Linked DNA regions of Homo sapiens. The protein of the gene in region 3 interacts with the protein of the main gene of each other region in a biochemical or structural test. Each region holds a gene or a part of one and is shown on either strand. Other genes may lie near its edges. The genes, in order: LGALS8, CYTH1, TRIM23, UBE2N, UBE2D4, UBE2W and CYTH2.

The links.
Region 1: the proteins of TRIM23 (region 3) and LGALS8 form a complex in vitro, tested with the Homo sapiens proteins (one study listed by BioGRID).
Region 2: the proteins of TRIM23 (region 3) and CYTH1 form a complex in vitro, tested with the Homo sapiens proteins (one study listed by BioGRID).
Region 4: the proteins of TRIM23 (region 3) and UBE2N form a complex in vitro, tested with the Homo sapiens proteins (one study listed by BioGRID).
Region 5: the proteins of TRIM23 (region 3) and UBE2D4 form a complex in vitro, tested with the Homo sapiens proteins (one study listed by BioGRID).
Region 6: the proteins of TRIM23 (region 3) and UBE2W form a complex in vitro, tested with the Homo sapiens proteins (one study listed by BioGRID).
Region 7: the proteins of TRIM23 (region 3) and CYTH2 form a complex in vitro, tested with the Homo sapiens proteins (one study listed by BioGRID).

The regions. Positions count from the first base shown.
Region 1 is NC_000001.11:236,540,982-236,544,481, reverse strand, and holds part of LGALS8 (galectin-8), read right to left. Parts: intron 2,829-3,500; coding exon 2,772-2,828; intron 1,722-2,771; coding exon 1,695-1,721; intron 1,568-1,694; coding exon of another isoform or gene 1,442-1,567; intron 923-1,441; coding exon 834-922; intron 1-833.
Region 2 is NC_000017.11:78,695,274-78,698,773, forward strand, and holds part of CYTH1 (cytohesin-1), read right to left. Parts: intron 3,108-3,500; coding exon 2,996-3,107; coding exon of another isoform or gene 2,995-2,995; intron 737-2,994; coding exon 734-736; intron 1-733. UniProt on the Homo sapiens protein: Promotes guanine-nucleotide exchange on ARF1, ARF5 and ARF6. Promotes the activation of ARF factors through replacement of GDP with GTP.
Region 3 is NC_000005.10:65,610,834-65,614,333, forward strand, and holds part of TRIM23 (E3 ubiquitin-protein ligase TRIM23), read right to left. Parts: intron 3,387-3,500; coding exon 3,265-3,386; intron 3,023-3,264; exon of another isoform or gene 2,894-3,022; intron 1,049-2,893; coding exon 770-1,048; intron 211-769; coding exon 28-210; intron 1-27.
Region 4 is NC_000012.12:93,405,184-93,408,065, forward strand, and holds the end of UBE2N (ubiquitin-conjugating enzyme E2 N), read right to left. Parts: 3' UTR 501-2,882; downstream 1-500. UniProt on the Homo sapiens protein: The UBE2V1-UBE2N and UBE2V2-UBE2N heterodimers catalyze the synthesis of non-canonical 'Lys-63'-linked polyubiquitin chains. This type of polyubiquitination does not lead to protein degradation by the proteasome.
Region 5 is NC_000007.14:43,943,436-43,946,935, forward strand, and holds part of UBE2D4 (ubiquitin-conjugating enzyme E2 D4), read left to right. Parts: exon of another isoform or gene 1-1,513; intron 1,514-2,698; exon of another isoform or gene 2,699-2,889; intron 2,890-3,500. UniProt on the Homo sapiens protein: Accepts ubiquitin from the E1 complex and catalyzes its covalent attachment to other proteins. In vitro able to promote polyubiquitination using all 7 ubiquitin Lys residues, but may prefer 'Lys-11' and 'Lys-48'-linked polyubiquitination.
Region 6 is NC_000008.11:73,809,363-73,812,862, forward strand, and holds part of UBE2W (ubiquitin-conjugating enzyme E2 W), read right to left. Parts: intron 1,268-3,500; coding exon 1,112-1,267; intron 1-1,111. UniProt on the Homo sapiens protein: Accepts ubiquitin from the E1 complex and catalyzes its covalent attachment to other proteins.
Region 7 is NC_000019.10:48,479,369-48,482,814, reverse strand, and holds the end of CYTH2 (cytohesin-2), read right to left. Parts: 3' UTR 501-3,446; downstream 1-500. UniProt on the Homo sapiens protein: Acts as a guanine-nucleotide exchange factor (GEF). Promotes guanine-nucleotide exchange on ARF1, ARF3 and ARF6. Activates ARF factors through replacement of GDP with GTP.

The DNA.
Region 1 (3,500 bases), on a different chromosome or scaffold from region 3:
GTTTAACGCTAAACTGAATGACTACTTCAGGCTGCAGGAGCCTGGGATCCTCTCAAGCAGGTATTCTCTTTTCATCATCTACCCGTGTTCCTTCCTTCTTGAAAGTATGCCACTTTCTAGGAAATAGCTCTAATTTCAAGCTTTCAGAAGGCTGGACGTCTGTGGAAAAAGTTGTTAAAGCAGAAATTTTCTAAATCACATGACAAGAGGGGCCCTAAAAAATGTTGCCTGGGCTGGGCGTGGTGACTCACACCTGTAATCCCAGCACTGGGAGGGCGAAGTGGGCGGATCACTTGAGGTCAGGAGTTCCAGACCAGCCTGGCCAACATGGTGAACCCCTGTCTCTACTAAAAATACAAAAATTCAAAAAGTAGCTGGGCGTGGTGGTGCGCCTGTAATCCCAGCTACTCCAGAGGCTGAGGTAGGAGAATGGCTTGAACACCCAGGAAGCGGAGGTTGTGGTGTGCTGGGATTGTGACACTGCACTCCAGCCTGGGTGACACAGTGAGGCTCCATCTCAAAAAAAAAAAAGAAAAGATGTTGCCTGATCTTACGGGGCTGCTCTGGAGTTCTACAAGGCAAGGATAGGCCTCGTGGACAAAAATGCTACTCTCTTGTCTGGCCAGAAAAAGCCGAGGTCAGAACACGGCCTTAGTCGGCTCTGCTGCCCACTGGCTGTTCACAATCTAACCACCTCCTGCTTGAATCATCTCACTTTGGAAATGAAGATTCTGACGCTAGCCCTTCTTCCAGCTCACAGGACCGTTCACGGGTGGAAGGCGGTAACAGGCACGGAAGTATCTGCACTGTGACTGGTACCGAAGGATACTGACCTTTTGGCATTTGCATTCACTTCTCCTTTAACGACGACAGTTCGTCCAGGGCCCATGGGGGTGTTCAACCTTGCAGCGAATGGCAGCCTCTGAAAAGAAGCCACAGTCAGGACCAAGAGGCCTGCAGAAAGCGATCTCCAGGGAAAACTCGTGTCCAAAGAACACTACGGAATGTTTCAGAGCCATGACCCTGTAAATCCCAGGAGGGGAGAGACAGTCTGCCTTGGTCCCAGCTGGGTCCCCTGCAGCAGCACTGTCCCTGGCTCGAAGCAAACACACATGATTACATTTTAGACGATGAAATGAGTGACAGGGTGGGACCCGATGCCCTCTGTATGAGTGAAACACGCCAGGAAGGCCCCCTGTGCCTGGGGTCTGAGGCAGTACTGTGTTCTGCCTGAAGGGGAAGCAGCCAAGCAGGGAGGTGCTGAGGAAATACACAGGAATGGCTCAGAGGCAGGCCTGGTTGACTCTCGAATCCGTCCAGGGACGGCACACAAATGCAGAGGGGGCTGCTTTGGGCCTCTATTGTGGATACAGGTTACTCGTAACAGCTCATTACAACTTAATTTTTATATAGAGTTAAGAAAATTTGGTGCTCTTCAAACCTTTGACACATAGTTCATAGGTGGTATTTTGGTGCAAGTCAAAGTGTGATTGACAGTCGAATCTTTGCTCTTGGTGTAGACAGTTCTGGGTGCGATTTTAGAAATGTCTCCTCCTCTATTACTAGGCTGTAGGGAAACAGTTCTACAGTAAGGAATGGAATGAATGAAGCTGCCCTCCACGGTTTAAACTGTTCATTTTCTATGCAACTTTATAAAATATTCCACATGAAATAACCCAGGCAAAAATACTCACAAGCTGGGGCGTGCCAGACTTTGGAACCTATTGGAAAAGAAACAAAACACAACAATGTTAGAAGGGGAAGAATTATAGTTTATAATCTGAAGTCTTGGTTGTGCTGAGCTGAGCCTGGCCGGAGCCTGGGATGTTCCTGCTCCACTCTGGTGTGACCTCCAGGCAGCTGGTGCTTTATGACGGAATGGTATGGTGTTGTGAAGGGCTACACGGGTTGAGAAGAGAGTCTGATATCCCTGTTCATCTGAGTCCTTTATCCTCCACCATAAATTAATAATTTTTCATAGAACTATATGAAATTTTTTTAAGAGACAGGGTCTTACTCTGTCATCCACACTGGGATGCAGTGGCTCAATCATGGCTCACTGCAGCCTCAACCTCCTGGGCTCAAGTCATCCGCCTACTTCAGCCACCCAAAGCTGGGATCACAGCCATGCGCCACCATGCCCAGATAATTTTTTAATTTTTTGTAGAGATGGGGTTCTCCCTATGTGGCCCAGGCTGATCTCAAACTCCTAGGCTCAAGCAATCCCCCCACCTCAGCCAAAGCGCTGGGACTACAGGCCTGAGCCACCACCTTCACCCAGCACTACATGAACTTCAAACGTGTCTTAGTTGTCCTTTCCAGGGTGCCCCCAGAATGCTAAGATTCTGTTCTGTCTGTGAGGTGTGAACGTGCCAGTCGGTAAGACCTCACTTTCTCCATTAATAACAGCGCATTTTTAAATTGCAGTTATTCTCCCAGGGGTTGAAGATACACATGGAAGTTCATTTGCCAGTGCACTGGCTGATGTTCAATATTTGGAAATACCCCAGAACAGTACTATTCAGCAGTTAAGAGTGAGAGAGTGCTTTTTACATAAGAACAGTGAGTGGCAGTTACAGAAACTGACAGGTGAATCATCAGCAAAAACTTACTGCGTGCCTGGCACCACAAGTATGTATCTCAATTTTCAAGTGATTACTTGCGTTCTAAAAGCATAATTTTCAAAAACCCAGCCTTCTTGCCATTTCATTAACATGGCAGCTAAAACAACATTTTTAAACCAGTGGCTCATTAAAAGATTTAATATTTACATTTTCTCTACTTATCTCTGTCAGTTCCAGACTAGATGCTTGGGTACTTTGTAAGTCCTGAGAAAAGATAATAAAGATTAATTTGTAACATCCAGTAGAAAATATTTTCTAAATATTTTATATTGACATATAAAAAAATTATAAATGGTACTAAAAATATGCTTGAAAACTATGATCCAAAAATACACTTGACACTGTGGTCCTTTCCGCCCCCCATCAGATTGGCAAACATTACAGAGAATAAGATGTAATGTCAGCAAGAAGGTGGGAGCATGGCTGTTGAGAGTGCAAACTGTTTTTACCCTTGTGAAGGGCGAGTTAGTATCTATCAAAATTTTCAATGCAAAGACAGTCATGTGTTGCTTAACGAAGGGGGTATGTTCTGAGAAATGTGTCCTTACATGACTTTTGTCATCGTGCAAACATCACAGAATATTACTTAACAACCTTAGATGGTACTGCCAACTACACACCTAGGCTGTAGGGTGTGGCCTATAGCTCCTGGCCAGTGAATCTGTACAGCAGGCACTGTACCAAATACTGTAGGCAACCAGAGCAGGATGGTAAGTATTTGTGCATATAAACTTACCTAAACATAGAAAAGGTATGGTAAAAATACAGTATATGACAATCTTATGGGACCACGGTTGTATATGTGGTTCATCTTTGACTGAACTGTCCTTATGCAACACATGACTGTGCTCTTTGACTCAGGCACTCCCAGCCTAG
Region 2 (3,500 bases), on a different chromosome or scaffold from region 3:
GGGAGCAAAACAAAACATAACAACAGAGCCGAGGCTGTTAATACCCTTCTCTGATCCCCAGGAAACTAAACACGAGGACTTCAGGGAGGGTTTTTTGGTTTGGACTTGTTTTTTTCACCTTCACTCGGTATCATTTTGAGTTTAGGAAATACCATTTCCCCTTTTCGTGCAAAGGCAAATGTCTTAAGTATCATCTAATTTAGTTCTTTCCCTAGTTTGCTTTTCCATCATGGTAAATCAGAAGCTTTCCATAGCTTTGGGAAGTCAAGACTTTGTTCTCTCTGGAGTAAGTCTCAGCTTGAAAAAAGAAGAAAAAAGAAAGACTTCCTTCTCTTCTTTCTCCTCTTCCCCACGTCAGAGATTAACTTTCAATCAGGCTGATTAATGGACGTCAAATTGAATATCAAACATAGCGCATGTCTTAGCCAATAATTCCAAGTGAAAATGTCATGGAAACTTCCTCTGCTTTTACAAACCCACTCTTAGTATGTTTTCTTGCATTACTGCATTCAGTAATGAATATAACATATACTCCTCCAAAAAAGAAAAACGAAAATTGCTCCAAACCCCTGATCCTGACCAGTTCCCTAGGGACTGTACAATAAGTTAGAAGCAGCATTAACACTACCACCGGCAATTAAAAAACAAAATAACCAAAAATAACGAAATCAGAAAATGCTGCAGTAATGACAGTGGCCTAGCAGAGCGAGCGAGCAGGCTGAGGGTTACATACCTCCTGGAGTTTGGGGCAAGGAAAAGGAGAGCCAAAATCATGGAAACATACAAATGAGGGAGAAAAGAAAATTAAAACAAAGAAATTAAACCCGATTCCTTAATCTTAAAGTGCAATGTATCAGTCACATTCATGCCTGCCTGGGGAGAGAGCTGAACTAAAAACACTCAACGGGCAAATGATCCCACTACTGTCTGGCACGTGAACGAGGGGCTCTTACATGCCACGTTCCACCTCATCAAGGCAAGATTTGAGGCACTACTGGAAACCTGGCCCCAAAGATGCCACAAATCGGCTTTTACAAAGCCAATGTTTACTAGTATATCCAGAATCAGAGCAAAGAAAGCTAAGGTTATTTCAGGGAAAATTAAATGTCTTTCTTGAGATGGCTGTCACTTTTTAAAGTGTGTGTAAGAATGCACACACATATACCCATGAGTACACATGTACTGATGTGTATACACAAGAATACACATTCTTATGGCTATATGCATACACAGACATATACACACAGCTACAGACGGCTGGAAGCCCTGCCTTCTGCAGCACATAAACACAAAGAGTGATACTAAGTGTGCTACAATGAAAACACAATATTCAGAGTCTAGAAGGATTTGATGGAGGTTTAGAAAAAGTAATGCAATGAGCTAAAACTGAGTCCCACACTTGGTTAAATTTTCTCTTTTTTAAAATACGAGATGCCTCATGAATTTGCATGTCATCCTGGTCTAAGAACCAAGATAATCTTTGTACTGTTCTAATTTTAGTATCTGGGCTGTCAAAGCTAACACTTAGTATTAGCATTTAAACAAATCTCGCTGTAGGGGGAAGTAAATCCAAACTTGAACACACTTTAAACGTTTCCAGTAGGTTTCCTTTCAACTCCATCCACTTGGCAATAGGAATGTGGAAGGGAAGGCTGCCTATGGGGTTAGTAATTTTAGAGCCTTAACTTCAAAGATTCTGGGGGCTTAAAGATATATAAAATGATGGCCAATTCAAGAGATATTTAAAACTGATCGGTGAAGTGGTGCTGTAAGGGGAATTTATGAATTAAGTCATTATGTATAAGCACAAGGACTTGGGATATGACTTTAAAAGGAAATATAAAGTCTACTGCTATCTGACCTAGTCAGAAATAAAGGATTCCATTTTAGCCTTCCCAGATGTGTCAGTAATGACCAAGAGAGTACTGACTTCTAATCACTGGGGCAAGCAGTTGGGCTGGTATAGGACGGAACAGCCCCTGCTAATGTGAGAACCCAACTCATCAAAGGCTAAAGCAGAAGGCAACAGAGGAAAGTACCCTGCTAGTGTCCAAAAAAAAAAAAAAAAAAAGGACATCATTATGTCCAGAGAGTCTAGAGCTCTATGTTCTGAAACCATTAATAAAGTAAACACATGTGGACATGAATGTGTATGAAAACCCTACTAAAGTCTTTCCTATTGATTACCCTGTCACCTTCACGGCAAGGCATGACCACAAATCTCAGCAATACAAGCTCATCACTTCTGGCAAAGGGAAGAGAAATGCATTTTCAGCTTTTCTAAATGAACAAAATAATTAATGTGGCTGATTCAGATTGAAAAGGAGGGGAAAAAAAAAAGAAAAAAAAAAAACCACTGCCCAAGAATGAGTAAGAGTGCTGTGGATTGAGCTGCAGCCAAGGGCTCTAGGCTTGCCATGCACACTGCCTGTGGGGGAGCCAGATGCAGAAGGAAGTGACGATGCACTGGGGTGGGGGCAGGAGCGCCAGGTACAAATCTGTGGGATGGGAAGTAGAAAGATGGACAAGGTCGGCCACCCTCCCAGTGGTTATGGGGACAGGGAAGGCAAACGGACCAGGTGCTCAGGGAACTGCCTTGAAACAAAACCTGGTCAACCAATTCAAGGGTAAAAATGTGGAGCACAGACACATGTGGGCAATATTTATGGTGGAGTAAGTCTGTCCCCAGTAGTCTCTGTGTCCCATGGGGGCAATGACTATGAAGTCACTTCCCTTTTGGAAGCCGACCTTTGTTAGAACAGAACTCATACCAAAGTCTCTCTGGAGTCCTCTATAAGCCACCCCCTTTCCTACATGGTGCGTGTGTGTCCATGAATGTGTGTGAACATGCATGCGCGTGCACACACACGCACGCGCACACATGCACACGCACAAACACGCACACGCGCACACACGCACGCACGCACACACGCACACACACCGCCTTTCTTCCTAAGTCTCAGCTTTAGGAGCCCTGACTCAGAGGTGCGCTTACCGAGTTTCAATAGCCAGCCTTCTCGGTCTGGATTGAAGAAAGTGTGAGTGAGGTCATTCCCGTCGTCTTCTGGGATTTTAAAGGGTTCATTTTTTATGCTCTCATAGAGATTCTGGGATAAAAGATGACAATTTATGTCTCTGATTCTAGAAATATTTTTTCCTCCTCCCCTTTCTCTTCATTCATTCCACAAGCATTCATGTGCCTATAGTAAGCCAAGCCTGCTAGATGCTGAGACTAGAAGATTATGACCATTTCTGCTTTCAGGCAGCTCACAGTGACAAAATAAATAAGCCTTCCCAATTAGGAAAATAAAGAAGCAGCCTGACTTCTATTCAAGCTTTTAGTTTCATGTTTACAAACCACTGTCCCCTCCCTGATTCCCTAGCTGGGCCTTACTACCACTTTCTTAATGAAATTCACATGGTTAAACAAATTAAAAGAGGAGACCCTTGATAAATTGTATGTTTTTTCTTCCTTCCTACAAAAGACGATCCTGTTCCCA
Region 3 (3,500 bases):
AAAGTGAAGAAGAAAAAAAATCCATACATGTTCTGTGTGAGCCATTCCAATTCCATCTTCCACGATTTGTTCTCCTCCTTCAATGTGCTGCACAATTCCAACTAATTTTCTGGAATAATCTGAGATTTCCTCTGTGAAGGTCCGTATGCAGTGAGCCATATCTAAAATTGATGCTCGGATCTGATTAGCTTCTGGTTCCAATACTGAATGCTATAAAATGTACCATAATTAGAGAAAAGAACTCATAGTATTGACTAATAATATAAAAAACTATTTAAATCCCTATTAATACAAAAAAGCATCAGCCACAAGTGACTTTTATGACACAGAAAAATACTAATTTACTTTCACTCCTTTATAAGAAAACTGTACTGCAAAGAAGTAATTTAAAATTTGGAAGTCCGTTTATTGCTAAACAAAAAACCAAGAGACTATCTCTAAAATCATATCCTAAGTAAGAGCTAACAGACATAAATATTGTCAAAACAATCTGGTGCATTATGAAAACATGCAAGCAAACAGAATGTTTGTTTCCTGCTCGAAAGCTATTTTTTTGTGAAGAATCATGATGCCTCTTTGAAGTTTTTTTTTTTTTATAACATTCAGAAATTAAATCTCTCATTTATTTTCATGCTACCAAACCCAATCACTCATCACTTAACTCTTCTTCAATCCCTACTTTCAGAATAAAGAACCAGGTCAGTGAAAACGAATACTGAGCTGGTAAAGTAGCTACAGTGATCCAACTGATTAATAATTAAATTCATACCTTGTGACCCTGGTGTTTTCCATATTCTTTGCAGACACAGCACATGAGTGGGCTAGTTTGACAACCTTCTTCCAAGCAAACAAACTCAATGGCATGCACCTGGTGCTGAGAGCACATAGTTTTCTCATGAGGTTTATCAGCTAGAGGAACTCGCCTGTGCTTTGCTAATGTCTTTGTAGAATGAGTAACTTGAGAACACTCAGAGCACAAATGAGTTGCACACACAGTGCAATATACAGAGGCAAGGTGAGCTTCATCTTCATCACAACGAATGATGCTCTGATAAACAAAAAATTAATGCCTTAAAATTGAACCCAATCAGTATAACATGACGAATTTTTAAATATAGAATCCATAATCCTTTTTGCTTAACTGAACAATATTTACATATGAAAATATATTGGTCATTAAGAACAAAGGTCATTCAATACTCATCTGAGAAGCATTCATTTCTAGGGGTAAGAAGCTATTTCCAAGATTAACTGGCCAATATATGTTATGAATTTGAAGCCAAAAATAGAACTATTCTCATAGATTCATATTCGGTGCAAAGATCTCTTCCACCAAATCCCCTCACTTTACACAAAAGAAACTAAACCATAGAGAAGTCAAAAGTCTTTCTGTAAAACTACAAAAATCTGATATTAAATACATCCCCATAGCTTTAAATATTAGTTGTCATGATGATGTATAGGAAGGACAGAAGCACAAATGCTATTTAGAAAATGTAGGAGTATGCATCAGAATTAGCTGTAAGCTTTTAAAAACATAGCTGTCTGGAAGAGAAATTCTTATTTCAACAGGTTGTGGATGAACCCTAGACTTGTATATATTTTTCTAATTATACGCCATGTTATTTTAATAGCTCCACAGGTGAGTCTATTGCACAATCACGGCAGAAAACCACTGATTTAAGCAAATAAAAAAAAAAATAGGCCAGGCTCAGTGGCTAACATCTGTAATCCCAGCACTTTAAGAAGGCTGAGGCAGGTGATCACTTGAGGCCAGGAGTAAGAGACCAGCCTGGCCAACATGGGGAAAGTCCATCTCTACTAAACATCCAAAAATTAGTCAGGTGTGGTGGTACATGCCTCTAATACCAGCTACTCAGGTAGCTGAGGCACGAGAATCACTTGAAGCCAGGAAGTGGAGGCTGCAGGGAACTGAGATCACGCCACTGCACTCCAGCAAGGGTGACAGAGTGAGACTCTGTCTTAAAAAATAACAATAAACAAATAAATAAAACCTATATGTAAGCATGTAAATATTATTTCTAGTTTTCAGGAATTACAAAAAATAACTAATTATGAAATAATTACTTTTATTTCAAGTAGATAAAAAATTACATGTCAGATAATCAAGAATGTTTTGAACACTTTTACTCAATATTAAAAGGCCATAATTGGAAGGGGAGAAATTTAGTATAAATTTTTTCAAAAATAAAAATGTTTAAATACATCAATGGTGTCATTCTTTATCACATTAAATAAAAAATGAATCCAAAGTGGAAGAGTTTTGTTTGCAATTATGAGAAATAAACACATGTACCATAAAAATTCAGGTCTTCTGTTTCCCAGACCTGACAAATAAATAAATTATAAACTATAATGTCAACATTAGCTAACAGTAATGTCTTTTGAAATAAAGATTAAAGATTTAGCACAGAAAGAACTGCATAACTTTTAGAAAACAGAGTGTTGCAGTTTGAAATTCATTTCACTGATTCACTTTAGTATAAAGAAATCATCATCTAATGAAAGAGAAGTGAAAGCAATCCGACATTTTTTTTCCTTCATACAAAATATGTGGTTTGCAAGTTGATCACCAAAATCATTAACTGATATTTACTCCAAATATATTTTTACCCATAACAGCCTACGAAAGCCATGTCCTATAGTACATATGTGCAGCTATGCAAACACATAAGTGCTAAAAATATACTTTTACATTATTAAAATCCAGTGTTCATGGATTCTGATATTTACTAGACATCTACCTGTATGGATAAAGACAGTACATCTATACAAAGTTTAACCTTTTCTTGAAGCTATAACAGTAACAATTCCCTCAGAAGTTACTGCTATCTTTAAGGCATTTTCCCCTCTGTATTAAATGGCCTCTTACATCGAGTTTTTCTTTCTCTCATTGAGTTTTACTGTTGACTACTTTTGCATCCTCTTCTCTACTGTTGCTTACATATCTTTCTTACTATTCCATAATCTTCTTCCTCTTTTCACTTTATTCTTGGTAGAACTGAATTATGATAAGGAAAAAAAAGTTCACACATAAAGCATAGTTTAGGCATAGGATTTTCAAATAATTCTAGTTTTTTCTCTTGGGAATAGTGTTGGCCTTCAGAACTGTAATGTAATGAAAAGTTGTGTTTCTAGAAATTTACCTGCTGAAATAAATGAAGTAATATTGTGCTAATAATGGCATCTATTAAAAGAAAAATTCATGCTCGTAACAAATATTTCACCAAGTATGATCAATACCTCTCCAGATATCCCAATGGATTCTTCTGCAGCTCCATACTGACCAATAGGCCCATTCTGCAGTCGTTCCAAAAGCTCCAATAAAGCAAAATTTTTTTTCAATCCCCAGACACCTGAATCACCTAGAATAAATATAAAAACAAAAACTAAATCTAACAAAATGGACTATTAATCATTTTACCCATACCTCAAAAGTAATTTCTAATATAGTTCAGTAGTTAATGTCTAAATTTTTA
Region 4 (2,882 bases), on a different chromosome or scaffold from region 3:
TCTGATATCTACTCCCGACCTTAAGCCAGGAGACTTTGTAAACTTACTAGGTTATAATAAAACTTAAGAACTATCGATATTTACTAATCTACATCATGGAACTATTTCAAAAGCAGTCATATGGTAAGATGGATCAGGAGTCTTTAAAAATAAAACTGAGAAAGAAAAATCATGTGATCAATTCAGTAGTAGAGACAGAGGTTGGTATCAAGTCTATGTTCATACACTTACCAGTGCCACCCAGCAGGGCCATACAAGACACATGAAATGAGATCAGCTCAAGGGTGACAAGATGAAACTGGGAGAGGGCCGGGGAGACCCGAACTCTTAATATTGGATTCCACACAAGAGGAAAAATTTTAGTCCAGCTCCCAGCATGGCAGCTAATGGCAAGTTAGTACCATAAAGCCAACTCTTGGAATATACCTGACTTCCACGATAAAATGGAGATGAGTGCAGGGGTGAGTGTATAGTTAAGAAAACAAACAATATATTACTAGTCCAGGTGGTAGATGACAGATTTTTATTATTTACACTTCTCTCAAATTATTACATTCAGCATGTTTTGCTTTTTATGTTATTTAAAGTATAAACCCTCATATAATTCCCTAAGATGGGTGGCATGCCAAGTAGCTAAATGAAATATCATCCCAGCCCAAAAGTACTTATTCGAATGAAATATTACATTTTTCTTAAATAAAGCAATAAATTAGGTACCCTATTATCATGGTATTTTCTTTTTTGGCCAGCTTTTCTAGATAAGGTTGTATTGCTACTGCAACTAACAAAAAAGATGTGGCAGGGCTGGGCACGGTGGCTCACGCCTGTAATCCCAGCACTTTGGGAGGCCGAGGCGGGCAGATCACGAGGTCAGGAGATGGAGACCATCCTGGCCCAACATGGTGAAACCCCGTCTCTACTAAAAATACAAAAAATTAGCCAGGTGTGGTGGCAGGTGTCTGTAGTCCCAGCTCCTCAGGAGGCTGAGGCAGGAGAATCGCTTGAACGCGGGAGGCAGAACCTGCAGTGAGCCAAGATCATGCCACAGCACTCCAGCCTAAACTACAGAGCTAGAAAGTGGCTAGAGCAGCCAAAAAAAAAAAAAAAAAAAAAAAAAAAAAAGGTTCCTGAACCATTCAACAGAAAAATGAGGCCTATTCCTATCATTTCCTCGATCCAATTTAGTTCCACTTAGGTCACTGTGTTTATAATGTCTTTTAGGACAGATTTCCTTCCCCATTCTCCATCAAACAACCATAGCACCTGTGACTTTTATCTGTTGGTTTGTATTTAATCTTATTTTTAAGTGCTTCTTTGAAATTGTTTTACAAGTACATTCTTGGTCTAGAGTAAGGTTCTATATAGTTGGCCCTCCATATCCATGGGTTCCACTTCCGTGGATTCAAACAACCAGACAAAATATTCCAAAAAACATTGTGTCTGTAGTCAACATGTATATTTTTGTCATTATTCCTTAAACAATAGTGTAACTATTTACATAGCACTTACATTATAATAGGTATTATAAGTAATCTAAATATTAACATAAGCGGGAGGATTTGTGTAGATTGTATGCATATACAACATCATTTTATTCCAGAGACTTGAGCATCTGCGAATTTGGATATCCAAAGGAAGTCCTAGAACCAGTTCCCGACAAATACCAAGAGATGACTTTACTTTAGACCTAAGATCTTGCTAGACAGCCTTTGAGAGGATGAAGGATAACTAGAGCAGAAGCAAATCGCAGCGAAGTAGACTACAACAATCAAGTCAAAAAACATAAAGCTCCTATCAACACCTCAAGATTTTAGAAAAGCCTCTTAACGGGCAATTTTCTTTTAAATAAAGACTGGGTCCCACTATGTTAGCCAGGCTGGTCACAAACTCCTGGACTCAAGTGATCCTCCTGCCTTGGCCTCCTAAAGTGCTGGGATTACAGGCATGAGCCACTGTGCCCGGCCTGGGCAGTCGATTTTCAGGAAGCCACTTAATGTTCAGATTCTTTTCTTCTCTCCCAGGACTTTGCAGATGCTGCTGTTCCCTCTGCCTGGAGATGTTCATCTGGCCTGAATCCAAAAGTCTGTCCAAGTTACTTCTCTTTTCCATGACAGAGTTACAACTATTTGTCTGTCCCCCTTCCCCATTAGAGTATATGGTCCCCAAAGGAAAGCCCCATGCCATTCACTCACCACCTAATCATCCCCAACAACTAGTGGGCAAACATGAAACACTTTTGTTGAATAATGTGTTTCCTTTAGCCCAGGGATTACAAAGTCAAAGGCTTACAAGGGGGAAGGACTAGCAGGTGTGCTCGGAGGGGACTCTAGCCAACTGGAGAGTAACTGGTGAGAAGACAATGACATGCTCTTAGGGTGTCTGCTACTCAGATCCTCTCAGTTAAGTCCCGTGCACAAAGGTGGGTCAGGTCTACTGTTGCCAGATCTTCAGATCATTCAAAAGTTACCCGAATTCTGGATTTTCATGCAAATCTCCCAATTTTTAAAAATGTTGGCATCAAATTCAGAATGTTTTAACCAGCCACACTGTGTGGGCCAGGGAAAACAGGCCCAAAGGCCAGGTGAAGCTGCAGTTTTCAACTGCTGCCTTGGCCTCTCCCAGAGCCCCTTAAGTCCTAAGAAGGCTCAGTCAACACACTGGCACTCGTTTCATCCCACTGGTTGAGAAAGCAAGTCTTAGCAAAGTAATGGGGGAGTCTTACCAAAACTGCAAAGGAAAAAAATATGATACCATGAAATTAGAAATTCACTGCATTTGAAATGAAAATGACTTATTTCTGTACTTCTATAACTCACAAATTTAGCAGACATCATTTAGACATTTTTGTAGTGCAACAGATTTAAATCTGGAATTTCATGGTT
Region 5 (3,500 bases), on a different chromosome or scaffold from region 3:
GTGGTGAGGGAGTACTACTGGTATCTAGTCGGCAAAGGCCAGGGTATTCCAGGGATTCCCTGCAGTGCACAGGAGAGCCACCCTTCCCATGACAGATAATGATCAGCCCCAAGTGTCAATAGTGCCAAGGTGGACACACCCTGGTTTAGGACTGGTGAGTCACACCTTCACTTTTCTTTATTAAGTTAAAAGAATAGCAAGCCTCCTTTGCCCTTCATGCACACACCATCCCATCAGTGGAGCTTTAGAGAGCAGTGCCACCAAAGGGAAGGAGAAGCCCAGGGAGCTGCCTCGACCACCCTGCCCTAGCATGTCTTGTGCACCGCAGGTCGTCTCACTCCCTGGACCCTTGGACCTCGTACTCCTTCTCACCTGGGCTCTGCATGGGTGGCCGAGCCTGCCCTGAGGCTCATAGTCCTGTGGAGGAGACAGGGCATTTAGCATGTGAGCTACTCAGCACTGGGAAGGAGCACAAGCAGTGGTTGGCAGCAGGAGCCAGGGTGGTGGAGAGATTGCCCTGAGAAAGGGGAACTGCAGGAGCTCAGCAAGAGGGCGGACAGGTCCCCAGGAAACTGCCCCAGGGGAGTGAGCCTGTGAGGAGTTGGGAAGGAGGCCAGAGGGGTACGGATGGCCCCAGGAGTAGGGTCTGCACGCCGTTGTGGGGATCGCCACACCGACACAATCACTCTGCTGCCTTGTGGAGAAAAGGCTGGGGTTCAAGTGATTCTCCTGCTTCAGCCTCCTGAGTAGCTGGGACTACAGGCACTCGCCACCACATGTGGCTAATTTTTGTGTTATTTTTAGTAGAGACAGGGTTTCACAATGTTGGCCAAGCTGGTCTCGAACTCCTGGCCTTAGGTGATCCACCCACCTCCGCCTCCCAAAGTGCTGGGATTCCAAGTGTGAGCCACCACGCTTGGCCAGGTTGTGCATTTTGTCAAGACTTACTCGAAAGTCCTGCATCTGCATCAGACCCCTTAGCTGAGGGGTTGTGATATTGCTATGTCTTACTACCTTGACTTGGCCTTGATGCCTCAATTTGAGTCAGAGGCTTAGCTGCTGTTTTGCATGTTGTTTATCTGAGTCAATGTGAAGAAGCCCCTTCTGTGCTCACCAGCTGCAGCTCTGTCCAGACATCGCCACCAGAGGCTACCTGGTGCCTGAGCATTTTAAATCTTTGTTAAATATGCTTAGGATCCCAGAGACCTTTTAAGCTTTTAGCAAGGGAGTGGAGTGTGCTGAGCAGGACAATGACAGATGCTAAAATAGCTTCACCACATTGGAGTACAACTGCTGTTCAAGGGAGTTTGGTTGAAAAATCATAAGCATGCTTCATGGTGCTGTGATCCACCCCTTCTCCCTTCCCCTCTGGAGAGACTGTGGCAGAGTCTTATCAAGTAGTAATTTTCTAGCTTGTCTCTTTCATTACTGTGTGAGCAGCTGAGGATTTTCCTTAAACAGATACCAATGTAGTCCTGAATGTCTGTTGGGCATTTTCAGCATACCTAATTGCCTAAGGACAAAGGAGAAACAGTGATTATTATTATTATTTTTTAATTATTATTATTATTTTTGAGACACGGTTTCACTCTTGTCTCCCAGGATGGAGTGCAGTGGCACAATCTCAGCTCACTGCAACCTCCGCCTCTCGGGTTCAAGCGATTCTTCTGCCTCAGCCTCCTAAGTAGCTGAGATTACAGGCACCCGCCACCACGCCGGCTAATTTTTTGTATTTTTAGTAAAGATGGGGTTTTGCCATGTTGGGCAGGCTGGTCTCAAACTCCTGACCTCAGGTGATCCGCCCACCACGGCCTCTCAAAGTGCTGGGATTACAGGCGTGAGCCACCGTGCCCAGCCAACAGTGGTTATTATTAAAAAACTAAGAAGTAAGCTCTGTGGGTGAGTTGGGATTATTTTAACAAGGAGAGATGTGAGCTGAAAGGTGACAGTGACACTCTATGAGAGAAGAAAGTGCTTCTGTCTTTTAAAAATCTCCTTCCACAGGGGAACAGGAGCAACGATTTATGTTTTGGCACAAATTTTCTGACAATAGGAGGAATCTGGCAAGATTGCATGATCTTTATTGGAGATATTGAGGCAGATACTTAATGTCTGCGATGATTTTGAAGTTTGACCCTTCCTGGGAAAAATTACAGATGTTCAAGCTCACATGCACACAACTCTCTTCTCATATTCGAAAGTAAGTTTAAAAAAAACTATTAAAAACTATATCAAACATGCAAAAAATTGTAGATAATGATATAAAGGATGTTTGTGCATCCTCCATCTAGACTAAGAAGTACCAGTGAGTTCTCAAAGCTAGCGGAGGAGGCAAAATCCCTTTTTTTTTTTTTTTTTTTTTTTTGAGACGGAATCTCGCTCTGTCACCCAGGCTGGAGTGCAGTGGCGTGATCTCGGCTCACTGCAACCTCTGCCTCCTGGATTCAAGCAATTCTCCTGCCTCAGCCTCCCAAGTAGCTGGGATTACAGGCATGTGCCACATGCCCGGCTAATTTTTTTGTATTTTTAGTAGAGACGAGGTTTCACCATATTGGCCAGGCTGGTCTCGAACTCCTGACCTTGTGATCCACCCACCTCAACCTCCCAAAGTGCTGGGATTACAGGTGTGACCACTGTGCCCGGCCGGCAAAATCCTATGTTCCTTTGCCCCAGCCCCTGCGTTGGGGTCACTGCTCACCCAGAGGGAGTGTAGGTGAGGCAGATTCTTAGGCTCCTATAGCAGTACAAGCTGCACCTGACTCAGAGCACCTTGCACATCACAGACAGCGGACTCTTCATGGGTCCCACAACATCCCTGGGAGAGGTACCATGTACCTACTTATAGTGAAGGCTCTGAGGTCCAAGGTCATTTGAAGAAGTAATGTGTGGCTGTGGTTTAAAAAAGAAAAAAAAAGTCAAATGTAGGACAGTATACAGTAGAAAATAGGACCTTCTTTAAACTTTGTCTCTCTAGCCACGCCTGGCCCCCCCGCCTTTTTTTTCCATAAGGCATTGAGTCCTACTTGTCTTTTCATTTCTCTTCCAAGAGTAATCTCAACCTGGATAAGCACTTGTTTGTGCTTCCTTGTTTTTCCCATGAATGGAACAGACCTTTCCGTGAATCTGCATCTTGCTTTTCCCATAGCAATATATCTTGGAAATTGTTCCATATGATCACATTCATGTTTTAAAAATTCACCTCATTCTTTTTAAACAGGTGTAATATTCTGTTGCTTATATATAACATTAATTTAACCAGTAATCAATCTGAAGACATTTAGGTTTTACATCTTTTGTTACAGTGGTTATCCTTACATATTTGAAGTGCACAAGGGTATTTTAGGGCTAAATTCTGAGAAGGGGGGGTCTTAGAAAGGGTGAAGTAGAAAGGTGGGGAGGGTTTGTGGCCTGGCAGAGGGTCCACGGCCTGAGCTTCTCTTTTTCTTTTTTTTTTATTATTATACTTTAAGTTCTAGGGTACATGTGCACAACGTGCAGGT
Region 6 (3,500 bases), on a different chromosome or scaffold from region 3:
ACACAAATAACTCCCTAACCTCTAGGGCAAAGCTGTTTCTCCTTTAAACAGAATGCAAAAGGAAAACCCTCATAGGGATTTAAGAGGGGTTTTAAAATGTAGAAATACATAAATGTTATGCTATACTAACCCTTAAGCAGGAATGACAAGAGTGTCAGAAGTGTACAGAGGATTCAGATACATTTAAAGGGTATCCTAAATTTATATGTATATTTTAAATTTATTTCATTATTATTTTCTTGAGATGGAGTCTCGCTCTGTCACCCAGGCTGTAGTGTAGTGGCATGATCTTGGCTCACTGCAACCTCCTGGGTTCAAGCAATTCTCCTACCTCAGTCTCCTGAGTAGCTGGGATTACAGGCATATACCATCACACCCAGTTAATTTTTGTATTTTTAGTAGAGACAGGGTTTCACCATGTTGGCCAGCTGGTCTCGAACTCCTGACCGCAGGTGATTCACCTGCCTAGGCCTTCTAAAGTGCTGGGATTACAGGTGTAAGCCACCGTGCCCAGCCTACATTTTAAGTTTAATTAAGTGATTTTTTTTCTTTTTGTTTTTTTTCCCCCCACTTCCATCAGACATAGAATCTGTGGATTAATAAAGGAGAACAGGAAGAAACGCCCTGAAAATTCGACTGGTAAACTGGTCTTCCTCCTTCAACCTAATCATTAGGACAGGGAAGCTCTGGTTCCTGAAAAATTCCCTGAAACAGGTTGATCGGGTGGGAGCTGGCAGAGGGGAGAAGGAAGCTATGATGCACTTTTCTGAGGCTTTCCACTGTGAAATCTACAAAAAGAATTTCTTGTATACTTTTACCTGTGCATGCTTTTGGGAATAAAATCAGCTTTAAGAAAATACCGTACATTTCCTGTTTAAAAGAATATAAAACAGTAAGTCTGGCTTCTACCCCATTCAACATGTAAAACTTCTATTTGGAATGAAAGGTATCAAAATAACTTTCCAATTTATTACTAAACATGAAATTCCCTATAATTTTCAAATAAAAAGCATAAATCCTTCCTCCAAATAAAAATAATTACATATTAAAATTATTTATCTACCTAACTGAAAGAAGAGATATTATCTGGAATAATTCTGAAAAGTCTTACCTTTTCCTTGCAGCTGGAAAGCATGCTAATAATGCTAAGACAAACTGATTGGACTGAGAGCGCTGGGGACCAGTCTTCTGTTAGAATGGATAAACAGATATGACCATTGCTATAAACATGAGGATGAACAGGAATATTTTCACCAGTAAACATGACCTAAGAGAGAATAAAATTCCATTAAAACTCAAATATTCTCTACTACCAAAAACTAAAATATTCTCCACATATAACAAATATTGATTATAAAAAAACAAAAAACCACCAAAATCAGTGCCAGGAACATGATAAACAACTGCTTATTTGTTTACTCTCATTAACTCAGTAAGTATTGGTTTCACTGAACGAATAACCACATAGTAGGGAAAAGATGCCAAATTATTTTTTATTTCGGTTATTTTTGATAAATTCTCCTTAAAAATTCTAAACTACGTATTTTTTACTAGTGAAAGACAACTACATTTATAAGAATGATTTTTCAGATTTTGCTCATTGCTCTCTGCATATAAAAATCAAGTATGATAAAATTCCAAACAAAAATATTCAATTTTGGGAAAATATGAATGACAGGTGGTAGGAACATTCCTCCTACTACTACCTGTTAACAATGTTAGCTCTAAGGCACATGTGCAAAGGGAAATGACTGTTATATATTCCACCTCCTCTAAACTTACACATCCATTATGATGGGTACAAGTTACTAGCTGTTAATCAGTAAATAACTATGTGCCTAGACGAAAAATACAAAAGTTGACCAAGTCTCCCAATTTGCAGTTTTACTCTCCTTTCCCTTTTACTCAATTCTTCTGTAACACTGTTTTTCCTTTCTCTATCATGTCTCAGCAATGTTTTGAATGGTAATAAATCTATTATTTCCTTCCTTTGCTCTAATAATTCAACAAATATCTTAAAGTAGTTTTTCTTAAACTTATTTACCTAAGCAAATAGGCAGGAGAATAAATTCATATATCCTGAGGAATCTGTAAGCATAGTCCAAAGTTGCTCGAAGAAAGCAGAAGTCTTATGTTTACACTGTGTACTATATTTATTCTACAGGTTAGCAGTAATTCCTAATTCCTGACCTCGCCAAAAATCAAACAAAAAAACAAAAGAACACATAGTTGGAAGATCTGCTTAAAAATACAAATTCAAGTGTCCTGCTTTCACAGATTCTAATTTAGTAAGTATAATTAGATTTTTATAAAACCCATCAGATATAAACCAACAATTCCTAAATCAGATTTACAGTATCTCAGCCCTGCAAACTGCCTCATACCCAAGTACAACAGAATATCAGTAAGGAGAAATCTTACCTTAAGTTATAGCAGAAACTGATAAAAGATATACAGTATTGCTTTAGGCATACCCTTTTTTCTCTTTATAGAGCAGAAAAAAGAACCAGTGAGGTAAATATGAATAGAATAAGGTATGCTATAGTTTAATATGGAATATGTTATAGGAAATTACCATAAGCTAAGTTTTATATATATTTTAAATATCTAGCTATGAATCTGATTTTGTTACAATGTTACAATTTTACAAAGATTTACATGTTAATAAAGCAGTCTTTCATATGAGTAGAGTCTTCTAATATTTCAAATATATTAACTAACATATGGGACACATTTCCTTGGCTAAGACTAGATAAGACAGCAAAAGGCATTTTTTTCCCAAAGGAACGATTTTCCATACTTGCATCTATTTCTTTTTTTTCTTTAAATTCTGGACATCAACTCTCCATTCCCACTAATAAAAAAAAAAAAAAAAGCTAAAAAACAAAAGTAAAGTCTCAAAATAAGAGAAATCAAGTCACTTATCCTACCTAATTGCAGAAGACTCCCTGAAAGGACTTTGATTTTGTAATGGCTACGCTCTATGCATGACATTTATCTCAATTACATCTATCGGTGCTAGTACCCTCTTCATTACTTTTTGCTAAAAAAAAGTATTGCTCTGTAAAAGAAAACAAATGCTTACATGGTCTTATAGTTCCACACTGGAGTCTGTCCACAACTGTTTTTTAATGAAATTTTATTTTTCATAAATATGAACTATAGTTTATTACATCATATGCATCTGATACTCCCATGTGTTGTAGATGTACAGAATGGGAGTTTACAAATCTTACGGACATCTACCTTGAGGTATTCATTTTGCCATAAAAAGCCATTTGACCAGTAGGATATTTTCATTAAAACACAAGCAATACCCAAGAGTTTCTTCTTTGGCCACAATTATTTTTTTAAAAGATATTTTTCGGTGTGGCTCATGCCTGTAATCCCAGCACTTTGGCAGGCCGAGGTGGGTGGATCACCTGAGGTCAGCAGTTTGAGACCAGCCTGGCCAACATGGCGAAAACCCGTCTCTACTAAAAAATACAAAAAATTAGCTG
Region 7 (3,446 bases), on a different chromosome or scaffold from region 3:
GGGAGGAAGGGCTGGGGCCTGGACTTCTGGGTCTGAGGGAGGAGGGGCCGGGGTCCCCAACTCCTGGGTCTGAGGGAAGAAGGGGCTGGGCCTGGACTCCTGGGTCTGAGGGAGGAGTGGTTAGTTATCTAGGGCTGACATAACAAAGTACCTCAAAATTAGTGGCTTAAATCACAAAAACTGAAGGTCTCCCAGTGCTGGAGGTCAGAAGTCTGAGATGAGGGTGTCAGCCCTGGCTGCTCCTGAGGCTGTGAGGGAGGATGAGTCCCCGGTCTCTGGCTTCTGAGGGTGTGCCGGCAGCTTTGGTTTTCCTCGGTTTGTAGAGGCGTCACCCCAATCTCTGCCTTCACCTCCACATGGTGTCATTTCTGTGTGTCTGGGTCTCTGTACAAACTTTTATAAGACACACATCCTATTGGATTAGGGCCCACATGAATGACCTCATCTGAACTAATTATATCTGCAATGACCTTATTTCCTAATCAGATCACATTCTGAGATGCTGGGGGTTAGGATTTTAATATAAAGTTTTTTGTGGGGGTGGGGGAGACACAATTTGATCCGTGCTGAGTCCATTTTGTGTTGCTCTGACAGAAGACCTGAGGCTGGGTCTTTATAAAGGAAGAGGTTGATTTGGCTCAGATTCTGATGGCTGGAAGGTTCAAGACTGGGCAGGTGCACTCACTGAGGACCTCCCTCATCCCTGAGGCTGCTGCTGCTTCTGGGGGAGGGCAGAAGGATGCAGCTGTGTGCACAGAGATCACATGGTGCTGAAGGAAGCAAGGGAGAGAAAACCAAATTCCCAAATTCCCAAGGGTGAGCACTCACTCACCCCTTAAGGCAGGCATTAATCTATCCATGAGGACTCCACCTCCAAGACCACACAGCTCCTTATGAGGCCCCACATCCCAACACCTGCCACACTGGGGCTCGAATCTCAACATGAATTTTAGTGAGGACAAACGATATCCAAACCATTGCCACCCAAAAGAAGTGGGCTGAGGCCTGGCGCGGTGGCTCACACCTGTAATCCCAGCACTTTGGGAGGCTGAGACAGATGGATCGCCTGAGGTCAGGAGTTCGAGACCAGCTTGGCCAATATGGTGAAACCCCGTCTCTACTAAAAATACAAAAATTAGCTGGGTACGGTGGCTCACATCTGTAATCCCAGCTACTCGGGAAGCTGAGGCAGGGGAATCGCTTGCACCTGGGAGGTGGAGGTTGCAGTAAGCCGAGATGGCGCCATTGCACTCCAGTCTAGGGCACAAAGTGAGACTCCCTCTCAAAAACAAAACAAAACAAAACAAAAAACAAAAAAAAAAACCTACAAAAAAAATCAGAAGCGTGCTGGGAGCTTGGGGGTCCTGGGCGAGGAGGGAGCCGGACGCAAAATCCTCAGGTCCTGGGGGAAGATGGACTGTGGGCAATGCTGAAGGTCAGTGTGACGTGATGCAGCCTGGCTGGAATGTTCCACAGGCATCTCCAGCTTAATTTGGTCAAAACGGAATGCCTGATTTCCCCTTAAATACTCCCTTTCGACCACCTCAGTCATGGCACCGTCATTCACCAGCTGCGGCGGCTCTCAGCAAGTCCTTTTGGCTCCTCTTTCAAGACTCCTAGCGTGGCCCAACGTTCTCCACCTCCACAGCCACGCCATCCTGCACCGCACAGCTTCCTCTCACCTCCCCGCTCGCCTCCAAATTATTCTCCCTGAAGCAGCCAGGGGCCCCTCCTGCAACCTCAATCCAAACACGTCAGGCCCCTGCCTCCTGCCCTTGCACGGCTTCCATCTGCTAAGAATCCAGCCAGAGGCCCTCCTGGGGCGGCCCAGGCCCCACGCGACCGGCCGCCTGCCTCTGCCCTCCCCTCCCGCCGCACTCCCCTCTTCGCCACCAGCGGGCTCCGCGCCTCTTCCTGCCTCTGCCTGCCACGGAGCCGGCCGCCCTGCATGCAGTTCATCCGGGGAGGCGGCAGGAAAGGGTGACATAGTGGCGGGACCCGCTGTTTACCCTGGGACCTCATCTCCCACGACCTTCTTGGGTCGATGACTCCGTTTCCCTGGCACCTGTGGGAAAGAGAAGTGGGGAATTCTATTTTCTCATTTGGAACTCCATTTCCCACCAGCCCCCGGGGCCGCGGCGGTCAAAGCCTCCTCTACCCTCCACAAAAGTACGGGATCTGACTAAGAAAAAGAAGACAAACGCCGCCACGGAGTCTCGGGAAACTGCGACGCCCGGAAAAACCTCGGGTCTGGGTCACCGTGGCTTTGGCGCCGCACAGCCTGCCGATAACTGTAGTCCACCTTCCCGCGGAGGGGCGCAGGGTACCCCCACCGCGGGGGCCTTCAGGCCGGCAGGTGCCTGTGGCCAAGGGCGGGACAGGGATCAAAGCCCGAAATTCCGAAGCGCCGCATCCCATCGGAGAGCTCAAAAGCGAACACAGCGGGCAGGAGGGACTACAACTCGCGGCACGCCTCGGGGCCACAGGCGCCTCTCCCACCCGCGTCCCGGTCCCTGCTGGGACTTGTAGTTTGTTAACTAAAGAGCGCCTCAGCTTCAAAGGCGGGCATGGGAGAGTGACATGGGACCTCCCAATCCGCCATCGCACCCTGCTCGGGATCCACGAGCCCTTGTTCTTTGGGGACACCACACATACCCCAACTGGAGGGCAAAAGGTCACAGACCTTAGCCCAGGATTCAGGGGTACCCCACATGCCAAGACTTCACCTTCATAGAGGCGATCCTCGAATTTCTTTGGCTGTCAAGAATCCCAGGAAAGACGTTCAGAACGCAGGTCCTCAGCCCTATCCTTGACACAAAATGTCCTCCAAAGGAGGCTGATCCTTTGAGAACAGACAAGCCTGGCTCTGGCACTGGCCCACAGTCCTGCCCTCTTAGCCCGATCTAAGGCTGCCCAGCCCTTCAGGACATCCCATCAGCAAGGCCCTTGCAGGACATGGGCCACCTCCCCACTCATCCTTCCCTGACCCTCCCTGAGGTGGTCGCATGTTCTTCCAGCTCCAGGTTGTCCTCAAAGCCCTGGCCCAGCTCACAACCTCACCAGCTTCATCTCCTGCCCCTCAAAGACCTCAAGCCCCATGAAAGCAACGATGGGAACTAGCTGATGGCTGTAGCGTAACTGGCTGATGGCTGTCAAGTAACTTCTAGAATGAATGCTAGACCTTGACCCTGAATCCCTGCATTCTAAACTCTGTCCCCGGCCAATTCCAACTCCAGACTCCCACCATATTAACCTTCTCCCTTTACTCCACTCCTGCTGGGCTCGGGGTGAAACCAGAACAGACCCACCGGGACAGCCCAGGCAGCACCCAGAGACAGGCGGGTCCAGGCCCCTGTCCAGGGAAACAGGCTGGCTCCACGGAGCACCTCGACTCTGTCAACCCCAAGAAATGAGGGGGTCAGCAGGCCAAGTGGTTAAATAATTAA